Linked DNA regions of Homo sapiens. The protein of the gene in region 1 binds, or shares a complex with, the protein of each later gene. Each region holds a gene or a part of one and is shown on either strand. Other genes may lie near its edges.

Evidence for each region. Proteins that work in one complex are often made in the same cells at the same time.
Region 2: PBRM1 (region 1) and SMARCC2 share a complex: the UniProt entries of both Homo sapiens proteins name them as parts of the SWI/SNF-B (PBAF) chromatin remodeling complex.
Region 3: PBRM1 (region 1) and SMARCC1 share a complex: the UniProt entries of both Homo sapiens proteins name them as parts of the SWI/SNF-B (PBAF) chromatin remodeling complex.

Annotation. Positions count from the first base shown.
Region 1 is NC_000003.12:52,682,766-52,690,345, forward strand, and holds the start of PBRM1 (protein polybromo-1), read right to left. Parts: upstream 3,149-7,580; 5' UTR 2,984-3,148; intron 2,835-2,983; exon of another isoform or gene 2,671-2,834; intron 2,150-2,670; exon of another isoform or gene 1-2,149. Other genes in the region: GNL3 (guanine nucleotide-binding protein-like 3), read left to right, coding at 3,328-3,340, 4,004-4,062, 4,481-4,618, 4,737-4,850, 5,344-5,427, 6,309-6,441. UniProt on the Homo sapiens protein: Involved in transcriptional activation and repression of select genes by chromatin remodeling (alteration of DNA-nucleosome topology). Required for the stability of the SWI/SNF chromatin remodeling complex SWI/SNF-B (PBAF).
Region 2 is NC_000012.12:56,161,859-56,165,753, reverse strand, and holds the end of SMARCC2 (SWI/SNF complex subunit SMARCC2), read left to right. Parts: intron 1-54; coding exon 55-436; intron 437-1,022; coding exon 1,023-1,451; intron 1,452-1,988; coding exon 1,989-2,065; 3' UTR 2,066-3,395; downstream 3,396-3,895. UniProt on the Homo sapiens protein: Involved in transcriptional activation and repression of select genes by chromatin remodeling (alteration of DNA-nucleosome topology).
Region 3 is NC_000003.12:47,584,769-47,590,163, reverse strand, and holds the end of SMARCC1 (SWI/SNF complex subunit SMARCC1), read left to right. Parts: intron 1-1,857; coding exon 1,858-1,955; 3' UTR 1,956-4,895; downstream 4,896-5,395. UniProt on the Homo sapiens protein: Involved in transcriptional activation and repression of select genes by chromatin remodeling (alteration of DNA-nucleosome topology).

The DNA of each region.
Region 1 (7,580 bases):
CTCTAAAATAAGAACGTAATGCCGGGAGTGGTGGGTCATGCCTGTAATCCCAGCACTTTGGAAGGCCGAGGCCAGTGCATCACTTGGAGTTCGAGACCAGACTGGCCAACGTGGTGAAACCCTGTCTCTACTAAAGAAAAATACAAAAATTTAGCTGGGTGCGGTGGCTCATGTCTGTAATCCCAGCGCTTTGGGAGGCTAAGGCGGATGGATCACCTGAGGTCAGGAGATCAAGACCATCCTGGCTAACACGGTGAAACCCCGTCTCCACTAAAAATACAAAAAAAATTGGCTGGGCTTGGTGGCACGCACCTGTAATCCCAGCTACTTGGGAGACTGAGGCAGGAGAATCGCTTGAACCCGGGAGGCGGAGGTTGCAGTGAGCCGAGATGGCACCACTGCACTCCACCCTGGACGTCAGAGCAAGACTCTGTCTCAAAAAAATAATAAAAAAAAAAATTAGCTGGCTGAGGCAGTGCATGCCTGTAAACCCAGTTACTTGGGAGGCTGAAGCATGAGAATTGCTTGAACCCAGGAGGCAGAGGTTGCAGCAAGCCGAGATCATACCACTGCACTCCAGTCTGGGTGACAGAGCGAGACCGTCTCAAGAAAAAAAAAAAAACAACATAAAGTGAAATCACTTCTGCATGTTCCCCAGGCACAGGAACAGCATATTCATTTTTGTAGACCTGTCTTACAGGATAGTATTTGGTATAGGTTATGTGCTCAGTTTATCTTTTAATAAATGTATTAAAAGTGCACTTAGGGCCAGGCACAGTGGCTCATGCCTGTAATCCCAGCAATTTAGGAGGCTGAGGTGGGCAGATCACCTGAGGTCAGGAGTTCAAGACCAGCCTGGCCAACACGGTGAAACCCCGTCTCTATCAAAAATACAAAAAATTATCTAGGCAAGGTGGTGGCATGCACCTGTAATCCCAGGCACTCGAGAGGGTGAGGCACGAGAATTGCTTGAACCAGAGAGGCAGAGATTGCAGTGAGCTGGGATTGCGCCACTGCACTCCAGGCTGGGGGACAGAGTAAGACTGTCTCCAAAAAAAACAAAAAAAAAGTGCACTTGAGACCTTCAAAAAAAAAAGTTTATTTGTATAGTTTAAAAGTCCTCAGCCAGGCACAGGGGCTCATATCTGTAGTCCCAGCACTTGGAGAGGCTGAGGCAGGATGACCGCTTGAGGCAGAGAGTTCAAGACCAGACTGGATAACATAGATTGATCTTTTCTCTACAAAAATTAAAATTAGCTGGGTGTGGTGCTGCACATCAGTAATCCCAGCTACTTGGGATGCTGAGGTGAGAGGACTGCTTGAGCCTAGGAGCACAAGGCTTCAGTGAGCCATGATCACTTTACTGAACTCCAGCCTGGGCAACAAAGTCAGACCTTGTCTCAAAAAAAAAAAAAAAAAAAAAAAAAAAATGCCTGTAAGCATCCCTTCAGCAATTTTGTCTTTCCATGAAGAGGAAAGACAGATTCCAGAGTTCAATGCCAAGTTTTAAAATGGCCTTGATTACAGTTACAAGTTCAAAAGTCTAACAATCAATAATTTATAGTGGACAGTTAAGAATACTTAATAATGTGCAACTGGGAGAATATCGACTTACTATAGACAAACAGTGTATTTCGACCGTTTATGAACTTTAGCCCTCTCCTATATTTCTAGTAATATTTAGCAATACAATACATGTTTAAAACAAAATCTTGGAAAACAGGACTCAAAGGAAAAAAAACACCTATAAACCTACTTCCAAGAAAAAAACCACTCTTAACGTTGTCATTCGGTTTTTGGTATTTATGCCTTAGTTACCTATTATTTTTTACCAAAATGTTAACAAACCACATATATTATTCTACAGCCTGTGTTTTAGTGAAGGTTCTTCCAAGTCAACATTCTTCCTCATGATGTTTGATGACTTGATAGTAATCTATCATATAGATACACCACAATTTACTTATCTTGGGAATTTTGGTAGGATATTAACATTTGAGGTATTTTGTACATTCCCAAAGCCAAAGAAAGCGGTCAAGGCCCTTCCATTCATCCACACATAAACTCTTTATTGTTTTAATTTGAAACACCTCTTCAAAACATATTTTCCAATCTTCCATTTTGGAGCTCAAAATCAAATATGGGCGACCTGTAAGTAATAAAGCAAAAATTATGCTACTCTTTTATGTGCATGAGTCCAATTTGCACTTTTTGGGGAAAAGCACATAGCCAAATGGAGAAAAAAATAATACCTAAAATTATTTGTCAAGAATCCTGTGTTGGAAAGTAAGTTAATTAAAACAATTCACCCCAACATACGCTTCTATAATTATTGTAAGAATTTCTATATCCACTATACCGTGTACTTATTTTTCAGGGCTTTTTCTATATTTTTGCAACTCTTTCTTCCCCTTTAAATTAAAACTTATTATAATAACAAAACTGTGCTTCCCCAAACCAAGAAATATACACAGTTCCCAAAATCCCGGATTCTTTGTGGTGTTGAGAAGCTGAAATATCTGGCCTCTACTATAAATACAAGTCCCATTGATTAAAATACCCGGAAAAAATACGGAAAGAAAATCACTAAGAGTTTGTGTCGAACCGTCAAGAAACCACAACAAAAAAAAGAGGCCCTGAGCAACGGAGGAAATGAAGGACTTTCCCGACCTGTCACTGGTATTGGGGACTGAGGGAAACGTTGACAGCTTTGAAGCTGCCCCGCGACGAGCGGGAAAGAGGAGCGCGGGGAGTTTCCGACCCGTAGTGCGCCTTTGTCCCTGCCGGCAGGTGCGACAAGGCTACTGGGCCCATCCGGAGGCCAGCCGCCGCGCCCCGCCCAACCCCGCGCGCCCGGCCCGACCCGCGCGTCCCCACGGCCGGGGCGGGGCTTCCGCCGCGGCTCCCGCCCGCCCGGGCCCACACAAAGGCCCGGCAGCTGACCAAGGGGGAGCGGCCCCACCCGCCCTGGGCCCGGCCTTACCCAGCCGCTCCGCCGCCTGCAGCCCCGGCCGCGGTCACCGACCGCCGCGCCCCGCCCCGTGGCCGCCACGGCTGCTGCTATTGCTCCTCCGGCCGCGGCCGCTGCCGTCGCTTCGGCACCCGCCGCCCTCACCTCCCTTACCCCTCCCGGTGCCGCCGCAAAACCAGTCCCGCGGCCGCCAAGCGATCCCTGCTCCGCGCGACACTGCGTGCCCGCGCACGCAGAGAGGCGGTGACGCACTTTACGGCGGCAGCGTAAGTGCGTGACGCTCGTCAGTGGCTTCAGTTCACACGTGGCGCCAGCGGAGGCAGGTTGATGTGTTTGTGCTTCCTTCTACAGCCAATATGAAAAGGCCTAGTAAGTGGGGTCGGGAGGCGGGCGTGGAGGGACCCACGTCTGGAAGTTGCTGCAGCCACCACGACGCTCTTCTACGGCTACGGCTTTGTCTCTGCTGGTATGGGGGTGGGAGCCTACGCGTAGGCCTTGGCCCTATTTCCTGGTAGAACCGAGAGTTGGAAGTCCCTACGGCGATCATGTTAACCGCGCGGGCTCATTCTGCGGAACGAAGCCGGGCAGAGGGTGGGGAAGACTAGGCTAGATTTTCGTAAGGAAGCAGCGTCTGAGCCAGGTTTGAGGCCCAATATTTTCTTTCCGTGGCCACGTGCAGACTGGCCCAGGTGAGAGCTGAGAATCGCCTCCCAGACTCAGTGTTCCTCTCCTGCCTTATGATTCGTGCTGTTTGACACGAAGTGGTTGTCGTTTTGTGTCTCATACGCTGTTGTGTATGATCCCATTCTAATATTGTGAGGGTAAGTGCAGGGAATTTTGACTCCATTCTGGATCTACTGAATTTAATTCTCTGGGATTTGAAAGTAGCACGTATGTTTGCATTAGGCATTTCGCATTAGACTTAACGTTAGGTTTGGTAGCCAATAACACAAGAAAAGGATATAACTCCATAGTGCGTTAACCCAGAACTAATCATTTGGGTTAACAGATTTGTGATGTGTTTCTTTGTAGAGTTAAAGAAAGCAAGTAAACGCATGACCTGCCATAAGCGGTATAAAATCCAAAAAAAGGTAAGTGTAGTGCTTGAGAGAGCTGTACCAAACACATTGCTAAACTGATTTTGCCCTGTTCCTTTGCGGGAAAGTCTGGGTTAATGTGATTTGGTTTTGGGAAATGGCATTGGATAGACTGACCATGGGCACAAGCTCTTAGGCATCAGGAGTGCAGCTGTGAGAAAGTGCAGTGATTTGGTGATAAGTCTCTAAATTTGTTCAGCATGTTAATCTCTGCATAGAGAGCCTTCTAGTTACAATTTCTTGCTGTTTTATACTTACATATGCATTACTTTGTAAGATTCCAATTAAAGCTCCATTTTCCTAGGACATTTTATAGGCATAACTAAATTGCAGCCAGATTGGTTTCTCACTTGAATTCTGCTTAAGTATAAAGATATTTTTGTAAGCAGACAAAATCTCTTTATTTTAATAGGTTCGAGAACATCATCGAAAATTAAGAAAGGAGGCTAAAAAGCGGGGTCACAAGAAGCCTAGGAAAGACCCAGGAGTTCCAAACAGTGCTCCCTTTAAGGAGGCTCTTCTTAGGGAAGCTGAGCTAAGGAAACAGAGGGTAAGTTATGTTAGCCAGAATTTTCATTGAGTGGTGTAGTGTGTTATGTGTGATATTTTTCAGAGTAAGGTAACAACACTAGTCACTGGTTCACCTATTTCCCTTATGGCTCTGACAGCTTGAAGAACTAAAACAGCAGCAGAAACTTGACAGGCAGAAGGAACTAGAAAAGAAAAGAAAACTTGAAACTAATCCTGATATTAAGCCATCAAATGTGGAACCTATGGAAAAGGTATGATTAGGTCTCTTTATGAATGAGAGATCAGGGGTTTTGATTTTGGTTTTTTTGCTTGGGCCTGAGTGCAGTGGCACAATCACAACTCACTGCAACCTGGACCACCCAGGCTCAAGCAGTCTTACCACCTCAGTCTCCAAGTAGCTGGGACTACAGAAGCACACCATCACGCCTGGCTAATTTTTTTTAGCAGACACGGGCTTTCACTATATTGCCAAGGCTGGTCTCAAGTGATCCACCCAACTCAGCCTCCCGAAGTTTCTGGTATTACAGGTGTGGGCTGTTGTGCCTGGCTGAGAGATGAGTTCTGATGCAGAAATAAAAGCACATCCACAGGCTGCTGAGCTTCTTGGGAGGAAGACAACTGAGTTCAGACTCCATCTTACCTATTTAACAACTGCAAGGGCTGCTACTCAGCTGTGGAAAATGGAGTTAGAGGTTACAGTTGCTCTACTTCTAATTTTGTGTTATTTCCCCCTTTATCCTCTAGGAGTTTGGGCTTTGCAAAACTGAGAACAAAGCCAAGTCGGGCAAACAGAATTCAAAGAAGCTGTACTGCCAAGAACTTAAAAAGGTATCTTAGCCTAGGTCAGTGTCTGACAGTAGTAATGAGGTTTAAAAGACTCAAGTCATTTTTTTTTTAACCTTTTAAGATGAAGGGTGCATGTGCAGGTTTGTTATATGGGTAAACTTGCGTCATAGGGGTTTGCTGTACAGATTATTTCATCACCCAGGTATTAAGCCTAGTACGACATTAGTTATCTTTCCTGATCCTCTCCCTCCTCCCACCTTTTCACCAACAAATCATTTCGTGACTCGACTCTAGCTTATGCTGTTTAATGCCTTTCCTGCTATGTTTACCTGACGGAAATAGTTTCTTTGGTTCTAAATATTTGCACAAAACTGGTTCTGCCTGTAAGCATGATTTACAACATTAAAAAAAAACGTTGACATAGTGTTGAGATTGAGAAAGGTACATTGGAGTAAGCAGTGTCAGGCTAAAGGTCTCTAAAGTACTCTGTTGAAACCTAAGTGAAGGAGGACAACTTGGTGTAGTTGCTCTCCAGCACTCCCATCCCCAACATCCATTTTCCCAAGCTCACTCCCCCATGGATAGAACCTGACTGCCCCTCAGCAGCTTTTGGCAAGGCCAGAAGGACCTATCAAACTATATAATTCACTATGGGAGGATTCAGACAGGGATATTTGCATTTTTGAAATCCATCTTGATCAGAGACTGCTGAGCAAGCCTATGTTTTACTTTCCTGTGTGAGAAATGATGAGGGTCAACATTCTTCATACCAAAGTGAAGACATGAGATCCAACTCTGAGCTCACCCTGTTGCTAAATGGATAATGCCAGTACTCTCTTGTGGAAGGTATTACCAGAACAAGGGATGTAGTTCTGATCATTTTCTCCTTGATAATGTAGTTCTGGTCATTTTTTCCTTGATAGGTGATTGAAGCCTCCGATGTTGTCCTAGAGGTGTTGGATGCCAGAGATCCTCTTGGTTGCAGATGTCCTCAGGTAGAAGAGGCCATTGTCCAGAGTGGACAGAAAAAGCTGGTACTTATATTAAATAAATCAGGTGAGTAAAGAGGGTACCCTTTGTCTTCTGTGTACATGGGTGAGGTACGAGGAAACAGTCTGATAGTCACTGAAGACTGATTAGATCCAACTCTGATCTCAGCAAAGCCAGAGTACGTGCACTTTGCCAGAGACAGTGCTAGGCAGTGGGGAGCCAGGTGACTTTTACAACTGACTCAACTGGTTTCTACTATTCTTTTGCCATTCAGTATTTACCATCTTTTAAATAAAGAGTGTAAGCTGCTATACCCAGCTTATTGTGTAGTATATTTCATCTAGGAAGTGATGACAGTGTGACAAATTCCCCACACCTACACAATGTCGGGTATTAGTTCAAGAGTGAAATAAATTGGAACGTATGTGACAAAATATTTAAATGAAATGCATAATTATGCATCTGAGTTTGAGCAGCAGGAAAAAGAAAACCCAGAACAGAGAATTACAAAGCAGAAAATGGGAATGAGATCTAAAATTGTTGTTGGGGTTAAGAAACAATTGGCTGCTTGGGAGGCTGAAGTGGGCACATCACTTGAGGCCAGGAGTTCGAGAAAAGCCTGGCCAACACGGCGAAACCCCATCTCTACTAAAATACAAATATTAGCCGGGCATGATGATGGGCACTTGTAGTCCCAGCTACTCGGAAGGCTGAGGCAGGAGAATTGCTTGAACCCGGGAGGCGGAGGTTGCAGTGAGCCGATACTGTGCCACTGCACTCCAGCCTGGGCAACAACACTTCGTCTCAAAAATGAAGAAACAATTGGCTGCTAGCTAAAGGTAAATTCTGGAAACATAGCTCTAGGGTTAGTAGGGTTGTAATCCAGACGTTGAGTCTGTCCTGAAGTTTTCAAGTGAGCAATACAAGGGGAATTGAAATAGAGAAGTGCAGATGCTGAGCTCTGTTAAGATACGGGCAGTATGGTAGGGGAGCTTACCCTGCCCTGATTTTCTAGTTAAATCCTTTTGAAAGGACTGGGAAAATGTAAACCAGAGTAAAATCTATAGTTGCCAGATTTTGCAAATGCATCTCAACAAAATAGCCACATTGGAGCAAATGTCTTTTTCTTTTTTTCTTTTTGAGATGGAGGCTTGCTGTGTCACCCAGGCTGGAGTGCAGTGGCGCCATCTCAGCTCACTGCAAGC
Region 2 (3,895 bases), on another chromosome or scaffold:
TTGCCTTTGGGATCTGCTGAAAATTGGATAACAATACTCAATTGGCACTGGCAGCTGGAGTATCAGAGGCAGCAGCTCCTGGCCGACAGACAAGCCTTCCACATGGAGCAGCTGAAGTATGCGGAGATGAGGGCTCGGCAGCAGCACTTCCAACAGATGCACCAACAGCAGCAGCAGCCACCACCAGCCCTGCCCCCAGGCTCCCAGCCTATCCCCCCAACAGGGGCTGCTGGGCCACCCGCAGTCCATGGCTTGGCTGTGGCTCCAGCCTCTGTAGTCCCTGCTCCTGCTGGCAGTGGGGCCCCTCCAGGAAGTTTGGGCCCTTCTGAACAGATTGGGCAGGCAGGGTCAACTGCAGGGCCACAGCAGCAGCAACCAGCTGGAGCCCCCCAGCCTGGGGCAGTCCCACCAGGGGTTCCCCCCCCTGGACCCCATGGTAAGTGTTATGTTCCAGAACTTTTGTTGGCTAGAGGAATCCAGGTGAATGTCCCAGTTCTCCTCAAAGGGGATACAAGATGAGTGTGGAGATGAGGTTAGCCTCAATTTCTACAGATGGGCCCATCTCTCTTAGGCCCCTAAATCAGCAGGAGTCCTTCCCCAAACTCGAGAGCTTTGGAATTTTATTCACTTACTCTAGTGTCAGAAAAGGGGAAGATAGTGCCAAGGAATGGCTAGATTATCCTTGTTTGTAAAAGTGAGTTATTCTTTGGGAGGCCGAAATGGGTGGATCACGAGGTCAGGAGATTGAGACCATCCTGGCCAACATGTTGAAACCCCGTCTCTAGTAAAAATACAAAAATTAGCTGGGCGTGGTGGTGCGTACATGTAGTACCAGCTACTCGGGAGGCTGAGGCAGGAGATTGCTTAAACCCGGGAGGCGGAGGTTGCAGTGAGCCAAGATCGTGCCACTGCACTCCAGCCTGGTGACAGAGTGAGACTCCGTCTAAAAAAAAAATAGAAAAGGTGAGTTGTTAAGCAAAATTTTATACCTAATTTTCTCCATCTCTCATCTTTATTCTCAGGCCCCTCACCGTTCCCCAACCAACAAACTCCTCCCTCAATGATGCCAGGGGCAGTGCCAGGCAGCGGGCACCCAGGCGTGGCGGGTAATGCTCCTTTGGGTTTGCCTTTTGGCATGCCGCCTCCTCCTCCTCCTCCTGCTCCATCCATCATCCCATTTGGTAGTCTAGCTGACTCCATCAGTATTAACCTCCCCGCTCCTCCTAACCTGCATGGGCATCACCACCATCTCCCGTTCGCCCCGGGCACTCTCCCCCCACCTAACCTGCCTGTGTCCATGGCGAACCCTCTACATCCTAACCTGCCGGCGACCACCACCATGCCATCTTCCTTGCCTCTCGGGCCGGGGCTCGGATCCGCCGCAGCCCAAAGCCCTGCCATTGTGGCAGCTGTTCAGGGCAACCTCCTGCCCAGTGCCAGCCCACTGCCAGGTGAGAAGGGGCCAAGAGGGGAGAAGGGTGAGGGAGAGGGGTCCACCTGGAGGGAGGGTGAGCGGGCAGGTGGGGAAGAGGTCAGGTATTAGAGTTTCCACAATCCTTTTTGAACACTCTGGTAAAATTAGAATACAGGAGGAAGGGCCTCTCTGGCCGTCCTCCACCATTCCCCAGCCTGGCAGCTGCCACCTTTGGGATGATGTTGGGGCCTTTCACTGGTGGGTCATGGAGCAATCCTGTGGCAGAGAGCATCTCAGTTGTAAACTTGAAAAGCAGCTGTTTGCATGATGATTGAGTGGCATCCCTTTGCTTATTCCTATCACGTTCAAATGCCCCATATAGAGAGTCTTTCTATATGTTTTTCTGAGTATGAGGTAGAAAAGAGTGTTGGGAACAGAAGTTGAACATTATGGGTACCTCATTCATCCACCCAGCCACTGCATGCCATGCCCGGTTCTGTCTGTCTGTGGTGGTCTGGGTCTGGAGCCATCTCTCCGGCGTACTCTAACTGATTTATCTTCCTTTTCTCCACAGACCCAGGCACCCCCCTGCCTCCAGACCCCACAGCCCCGAGCCCAGGCACGGTCACCCCTGTGCCACCTCCACAGTGAGGAGCCAGCCAGACATCTCTCCCCCTCACCCCCTGTGGACATCACGGTTCCAGGAACAGCCCTTCCCCCACCACTGGGACCCTCCCCAGCCTGGAGAGTTCATCACTACGTAAGGAAAGCTCCTTCCGCCCCTCCAAAGCCCTCACCATGCCTAACAGAGGCATGCATTTTTATATCAGATTATTCAAGGACTTCTGTTTAAAAGATGTTTATAATGTCTGGGAGAGAGGATAGGATGGGAATGCTGCCCTAAAGGAAGGGCTGGTGAAAGGTGTTTATACAAGGTTCTATTAACCACTTCTAAGGGTACACCTCCCTCCAAACTACTGCATTTTCTATGGATTAAAAAAAAAAAAAAAAAGTAGATTTTAAAAAGCCACATTGGAGCTCCCTTCTACCCACTAAAAAATAACCAATTTTTACATTTTTTGAGGGGGAGTGAGTTTTAGGAAAGGGGAATTAAGATTCCAGGGAGAGCTCTGGGGATAGAACAGGGCGCAGATTCCATCTCTCCCCAAGCCCCTTTTTAGTGACTAAGTCAAGGCCCCAACTCCCCTCCCCCACCCTACGCTGAGCTTATTCGAGTTCATTCGTACTAATAATCCCTCCTGCGGCTTCCTCATTGTTGCTGTTTTAGGCCACCCCAGCTCAGCCAATGATTCCTTTCCCTCTGAATGTCAGTTTTGTTTTTAAAAGTCACTTGCTTAGTTGATGTCAGCGTATGTGTATTTGGTGGGGAAAACCTAATTTCGGGGATTTCTGTGGTAGGTAATAGGAGAAGAAAGGGCACTGGGGGCTGTTCTCCTTCCTTCCCTGGGCTGTATCCATGGACTCCTGGAAGGCACAGAGAAGGGAGCTATAAGAGGATGTGAAGTTTTAAAACCTGAAATTGTTTTTTAAAGCACTTAAGCACCTCCATATTATGACTTGGTGGGTCACCCCTTAGCTTCCTCCCTCTCCCACCAAGACTATGAGAACTTCAGCTGATAGCTGGGGGCTCCCCAGATGAGGATGCAGGGATTTGGGAGCAGTGGAAGAGGGTGCCCAACCTTGGGTTGGACCAACCCTTGGCTCGCAGCTCAACTCTGCTTCCCGCATTCCTGCTCCACGTGTCCCAGCTTCTCCCCTGTGACGGGAAGGCAGGTGTGACTCCAGGCTCTGCACTGGTTCTTCTTGGTTCCTCCCACCAGGCCCTTTGTTCCTCATGTCCCCATGTTTCTCTCCCTCTGCGTCTTAGCACCTTTCTTCTGTTCAAAGTTTTCTGTAAATTTTCTCTTTTTTTCTTTCTTTCTTTTTTTTTTTTTTATAAATTAATTTGCTTTCAGTTCCATCTTGTGGGTGCATTCTGTGTTCTTACCTGTGGCTGTCAGGCAGGGGGATTGTGATGGGAGCAGCTTTCCTGGAGTCCTTCACAGCGGCGTTTACCTGGGCCGAAAGACACTCTGCAAGCCACACGGCCTACAGACACTGCGCCTCCCCACAAAACACGAACGGCAGCACAACTGTCGAGACTATGTGCTGGTATAGGAGCAGAGGCTCTCACCTGCCCTAAAAGCTGTTTAAGACTTGGAAGGACATTCCCACAACATGGAATTTTGTATCTCTGTCCCTTCAGAAGTAGTGGTTTCACTCCTTCCCTTATTAGAGAGGAGGCAAGCCCCTTACCTACTTTTGTTATAATTGGCCCTTCACCCTGCTGAGGTGACGGACAGGCTTAGGCAGTGCTAATAATGGCCTGGCTTTAGCTCCAATAAACACTCCACAGGCTTCCCCACAAAAGGCCTTATTGGGAGCTTGGGAGGGCGGGGGCCAGATTTAAGGAGCTGGAAG
Region 3 (5,395 bases), 5.1 Mb from region 1:
AGAGGAAATACGAAGTTCCAGCAAGCTCAATGAGGACAACACTAGTGCTGCTAAGTGATACTTGTCTGAGGCTGTGTTTAGAGACCAGGTCATTTCTCCCATAGGCTCTTGCTCGGCTTCAGCCTTGGCCTGAGGGTTGTTTCTGAGACCCTGGCCTGCCTTTTACTCCAGAAGGCCTTCCCAGTGAGGATGATGCTGAAATGCAGCCAGTAGTAGGTCAGGTACCCCAGCCACATCTGTAATCTTAGGTTCATGTAGAAGTTCACGTGTGGCCAAAAGTTTAGCTACTATTTATAGTTCAGAGAGATAGGAAGCATAAGAATTCTTGCTCTGTAGGAGCTTTAGTTGAGAAAACAAGAAATGAAAACTTGGATAGAACTTAGCAAATGAAGGCATATAGAACTTACCAAAGGTTACATGAGACTGTGATGTGCCTTAAGTACACTCTAATACTCTGGGAGGCTTCATGGACAGAGACATGTCTGACTCTTCTCTGGCCCCCAGAGTCTGGGACAAAGTAGGTGCACAGAAGAAAGACACTAATTTATCTAGGTATATAAGATCACAACAACTTTTTAAAATTATCTCCCTTAAGCTAGTGGTCAGTGGTTGTGTAGTACAGTAGGTACCTCTTTTTCTTGGCAAGAAAATGTTTGCCAAGCCACCCTGTGGACCATACATAAATGAGCTCGCCTATCAAGAGAGTTGACCAGTTTTCCATCCCTATTGCAGAGGTAGTATCACTGGTCTTTACCAATTTACCACTGTCATGTCCTGCTGGTCACCCATGTTTTGTACTTCAGGATTCCTTCCCAAAGGGACCTCAGTAGAGCTCCTTGAGAATGTGGAGGGTTTCAGGTGGAACCTTCCCACCTGCTGCCTGGTTCCTGCCATAAGTCAGTGCTCTGGAATTCTGAACCATGTGAATTGGTTCTAGGATACTAGGTAGGCCACACTGGATGAGTTGCTTCTCCACTTCAGCCCTTCATTTCCTCCACTGAAAGATGACACAAGGGATTAGATCAGTGAGCTTCAGAATGCTTTCAAGAGTCTTAAGGGTTTGGTAGAAACCTCTTGGGCATAGAGTTGGGTGAATTGATTGGTGAGCAATGCTGCACTTTATTTCATATGTTTTCAATTCTGACAAGATCTAGGGGTTTTTAAAACCCGGATTAAATGATCTCTCGGGTTCTTTTGTACACTAAAGCAGGTAAAGTTGAAATAGGAAAGAGTCCCAGACACTCATACTAATTGTTCCCTTCAGGACATGACCTAGTTTGGGCCAAAAATCGAAGGACTGCAGTTCAGGAGCTGTGGAGGCCTCCCTGGACTATCCAGTTTGTCAGCAACTGCCTCAAGTGAAGCTCTCTGGCCCTGGTGGAGACATTTATATAGCAAGAATTTATTGATAATCTATTTTGTGCCCAGCTAGGCTAGGGACTGTGGGGGCGGGGGGGGGGCGGGAAGAAAAACAAGACATAGAACTGTCCCAGGAAGGAGCTTATTTTTTAACTGAAGAAATAAAATTAGAACCCTTGAAATACAATGCAATCAAAATTAACTTCTGAAAGGGCCTGGAGCGATTCTTGGAAGGAGTTGGCCTGGAAGGAGGGTGGGGGAAATTCAGACACCTCCCACTCCCCAGCCACTAGGGTTAGGCTAAGCAACTTGAGCAGTGCCCTAGAGGTTCAGAAGGAATTGACTTGCATAGACCACAGTGGAATCAATGCCTCACAGGGTGCATTGGTTGCCTGCCACTAAGGAAAGGACTTCTGTGTCTTTTTTTCACTGAATAGGCTCTTTCCTGAGTCTCTTGTATTTCCAGCAATAACGAGTTACTCTTGGATATGTTTGCAGATCCCCCTCCACCACAGCAGCAGCCACCGCCACCACCACCTGCAGATGGGGTCCCTCCGCCTCCTGCTCCTGGCCCGCCAGCCTCAGCTGCTCCTTAGCCTGGAAGATGCAGGGAACCTCCACGCCCACCACCATGAGCTGGAGTGGGGATGACAAGACTTGTGTTCCTCAACTTTCTTGGGTTTCTTTCAGGATTTTTCTTCTCACAGCTCCAAGCACGTGTCCCGTGCCTCCCCACTCCTCTTACCACCCCTCTCTCTGACACTTTTTGTGTTGGGTCCTCAGCCAACACTCAAGGGGAAACCTGTAGTGACAGTGTGCCCTGGTCATCCTTAAAATAACCTGCATCTCCCCTGTCCTGGTGTGGGAGTAAGCTGACAGTTTCTCTGCAGGTCCTGTCAACTTTAGCATGCTATGTCTTTACCATTTTTGCTCTCTTGCAGTTTTTTGCTTTGTCTTATGCTTCTATGGATAATGCTATATAATCATTATCTTTTTATCTTTCTGTTATTATTGTTTTAAAGGAGAGCATCCTAAGTTAATAGGAACCAAAAAATAATGATGGGCAGAAGGGGGGGAATAGCCACAGGGGACAAACCTTAAGGCATTATAAGTGACCTTATTTCTGCTTTTCTGAGCTAAGAATGGTGCTGATGGTAAAGTTTGAGACTTTTGCCACACACAAATTTGTGAAAATTAAACGAGATGTGGAAGGAGAACCTCAGTGATTTTATTCCCTAGTGAGGCCTCTGAGGGCCTCCACACTGCCTGGCAGAACATACCACTGAACTAGTATGTGCTAGAGGAGGGCACAAACATCCGCTCCTTCCCTAGGCCTGCTGGCTCTGGTTTTCTATGCAGATGATTCATTGGATTGGGGGTGAGTGTTTTGTTTTTCTGGGGGCAGTGTGAGCTTTGAGGGTTGGAATATTGGGAGGCATTCCTTAGTTTCCTCAACTAGCCTGGAAAGTTAGGAGTCTAGGGTAATTACCCCCAATGAGTCTAGCCTACTATTCACTGCTTTGTGTGCATTTTTTTCTCCCTCTTTAAAAAACCCTTTAAAAGAAAAAAAAAAGTAGATAGTGCTAAATATTTTAGCTCATGAAACTTGGTTAGGATGGCTGGGGGTACAAGTCCCCAAACTACCTCTTGTTACAGTAGCCAGGGAGTGGAATTTCGTCAACCGGTACTTTTAAGGTTAGGATGGGACGGGAAAAGTGAAGCAGGATATTAGCTCCTTATACCTTCTCCCTTCCATTTCTGAGATCTCACATTCCATCTATCACAGGGTTTTCAAAGAGATGCTGAGGGTAACAAGGAACTCACTTGGCAGTCAGAGCATCATGCTTTGAGGTTTGGGGTGCTCAGGCTGGGAGGGTAGAATGCCATTCCAGAGGACAAGCCACAAAAATGCCTTAATTTGAGCTCGTATTTACCCCTGCTGATAAGTGACTTGAGAGTTCCCGGTTTTTTCCTCTTGTCCTTCCCTCCCTTCTGTCCTTCCATGTGTGGGGAAAGGGTGTTTTTGGTAGAGCTTGGTTTCCAAAGCGCCTGGCTTTCTCACTTCACATTCTCAAGTGGCAGTTTCATTATTTAGAATGCAAGGTGGACATCTTTTGGATATCTTTTTCTATATATTTTCTAAAGCTTTACATATGAGAGGGTATAGGGAGGTGTTTATAAAACACTTGAGAACTTTTTTCCTTAATATCAGAAAGCAAAAAAATAAAACCACAATTGAGATTTGCCTTTCAAACCCTCAGGTTTGCCTCTAACCAGGTGTCCCTGGTCACCATCAGAGTACTGGAATACGGGAACCGAGGAGACCTTGGTCCTTTTGTTTTTGTTCTGGACTCTTGGGAGTGGAAATGAGAATGAGTTTATTCCTACTGGAGCTTAGTTCCAATGCATTTGGCTCCAGAAAGACCCCAGTGCCTTTTGACAATGGCCAGGGTTTTACCTACTTCCTGCCAGTCTTTCCCAAAGGAAACTCATTCCAAATACTTCTTTTTTCCCCTGGAGTCCGAGAAGGAAAATGGAATTCTGGTTCATACTGTGGTCCCTTGTAACCTCAGGTCTTTAATGTGATCACTTTCAAATTTAAAAGATCCAGGTGGAAATATTTTTACTATAGTAATAATTCTACAAAATACCTGAATTCTTAACACTGTTATATTTCAGTATAAGTGGTGGCTTTTTCTTTTCATGTCTTTGATCTGGTTTTATTCCTGTAATTCAGCCACCTGATTTTGTGAGGGGGGGGAATAATATGTGGTTTTTGTACAAACATGTTTCTCAGTGTGTTGTTATTTTGGAAAAAATGAGGGGAGGGAGTTTGGCAAGAATGGAGAAAATGAATGAAGAAGGCCTAATCTCTCTCTTTTTCAGTGAATAAATGGAACACCATTTCTGGATTCTAGTCCCATTCTCTGCATTCATACACCAGTTTCTTCATATATCCTATGAAGAACCTAAACATTTGGCCCCACCTGGTCTTGGTTTGATCAGCAGTTAAAATTCTGTGACTCGGGCTTCCTTCCCGACTGCCCACCTTCATGATGTGTAAGGAACATACATTTTGAGGGTACCTCACCCACTGTTCATTTGCATGGTCAAAGTGAAAATGAGTGGAAGTTCTCCAAAAATGATGGCCAACATCCTGGCACCTCCAGGTGTGAGAAATAGCTTTGCTTGGTGAATGGGATAATGTTTGTCAGGATGCAGTTTAGACAGTCCCAAGTTGGAGGCAGGCCTTGAGGGCAGAAGATTCTGTGAACCTTGGGGGACAGCTTTTGGGTACTCACAGATATAAACCCTGTGCAGAAAAAAAGAAGTGATTGTTTTCAGGATGCTTATAAATCGAGTGAAGCAAAAGAAGAGGATTCTGTGTCTGCCATGAGATGAACGCCCTGCTCTTCACGAAGGTGTGCCTCTAATAAAGAGAGCCAAAGCCAGCTGGGTCTCACCAGATTCCTATACTTTCTCAAGGATGTTGGGGGAGGTTAATCCTTTATCGAAACTAAAGACTGGTTTATAAACTTGTGTGTGAATTATTTTTAGAATATTGGAGGACATGCAAGATCAACCAGTCTTACATAGGTTCCCTGGGTCCTTACCATGGAGTAATTCCCCCACATTCAATTAAGAATAGTTTAGGCTGGGTGCAGTGGCTCACGCCTGTAATCCCAGCACTTGCATTTTGGGAGGCCGAGGTGGGCTGATACCTGAGGTCAGGAGTTTAAGACCAGCCTGGCCAACATGGTGAAACCCTGTCTCTAGTAAAAACAAAAAATTAGCCAGGCATGGTGGCACGCACCTGTAATCCCAGCTGCTCAGGAGGCAGAAGTTGCAGTGAGCTGAGATCACGCCACTGCACTCCAGCCTGGGTGATAGCGAGACTCCATCTCAAAAAATTAAGTTTATTTTTTTAGAGGTGGGGTTTTGCTCTGTCACCCAGGCTAGAGTACAGTGGCACGATCATAACTCACTGCAGCCTCAACCTCCTGGACTCTAGTGATCTTCCCACCTTAGCCTCCCA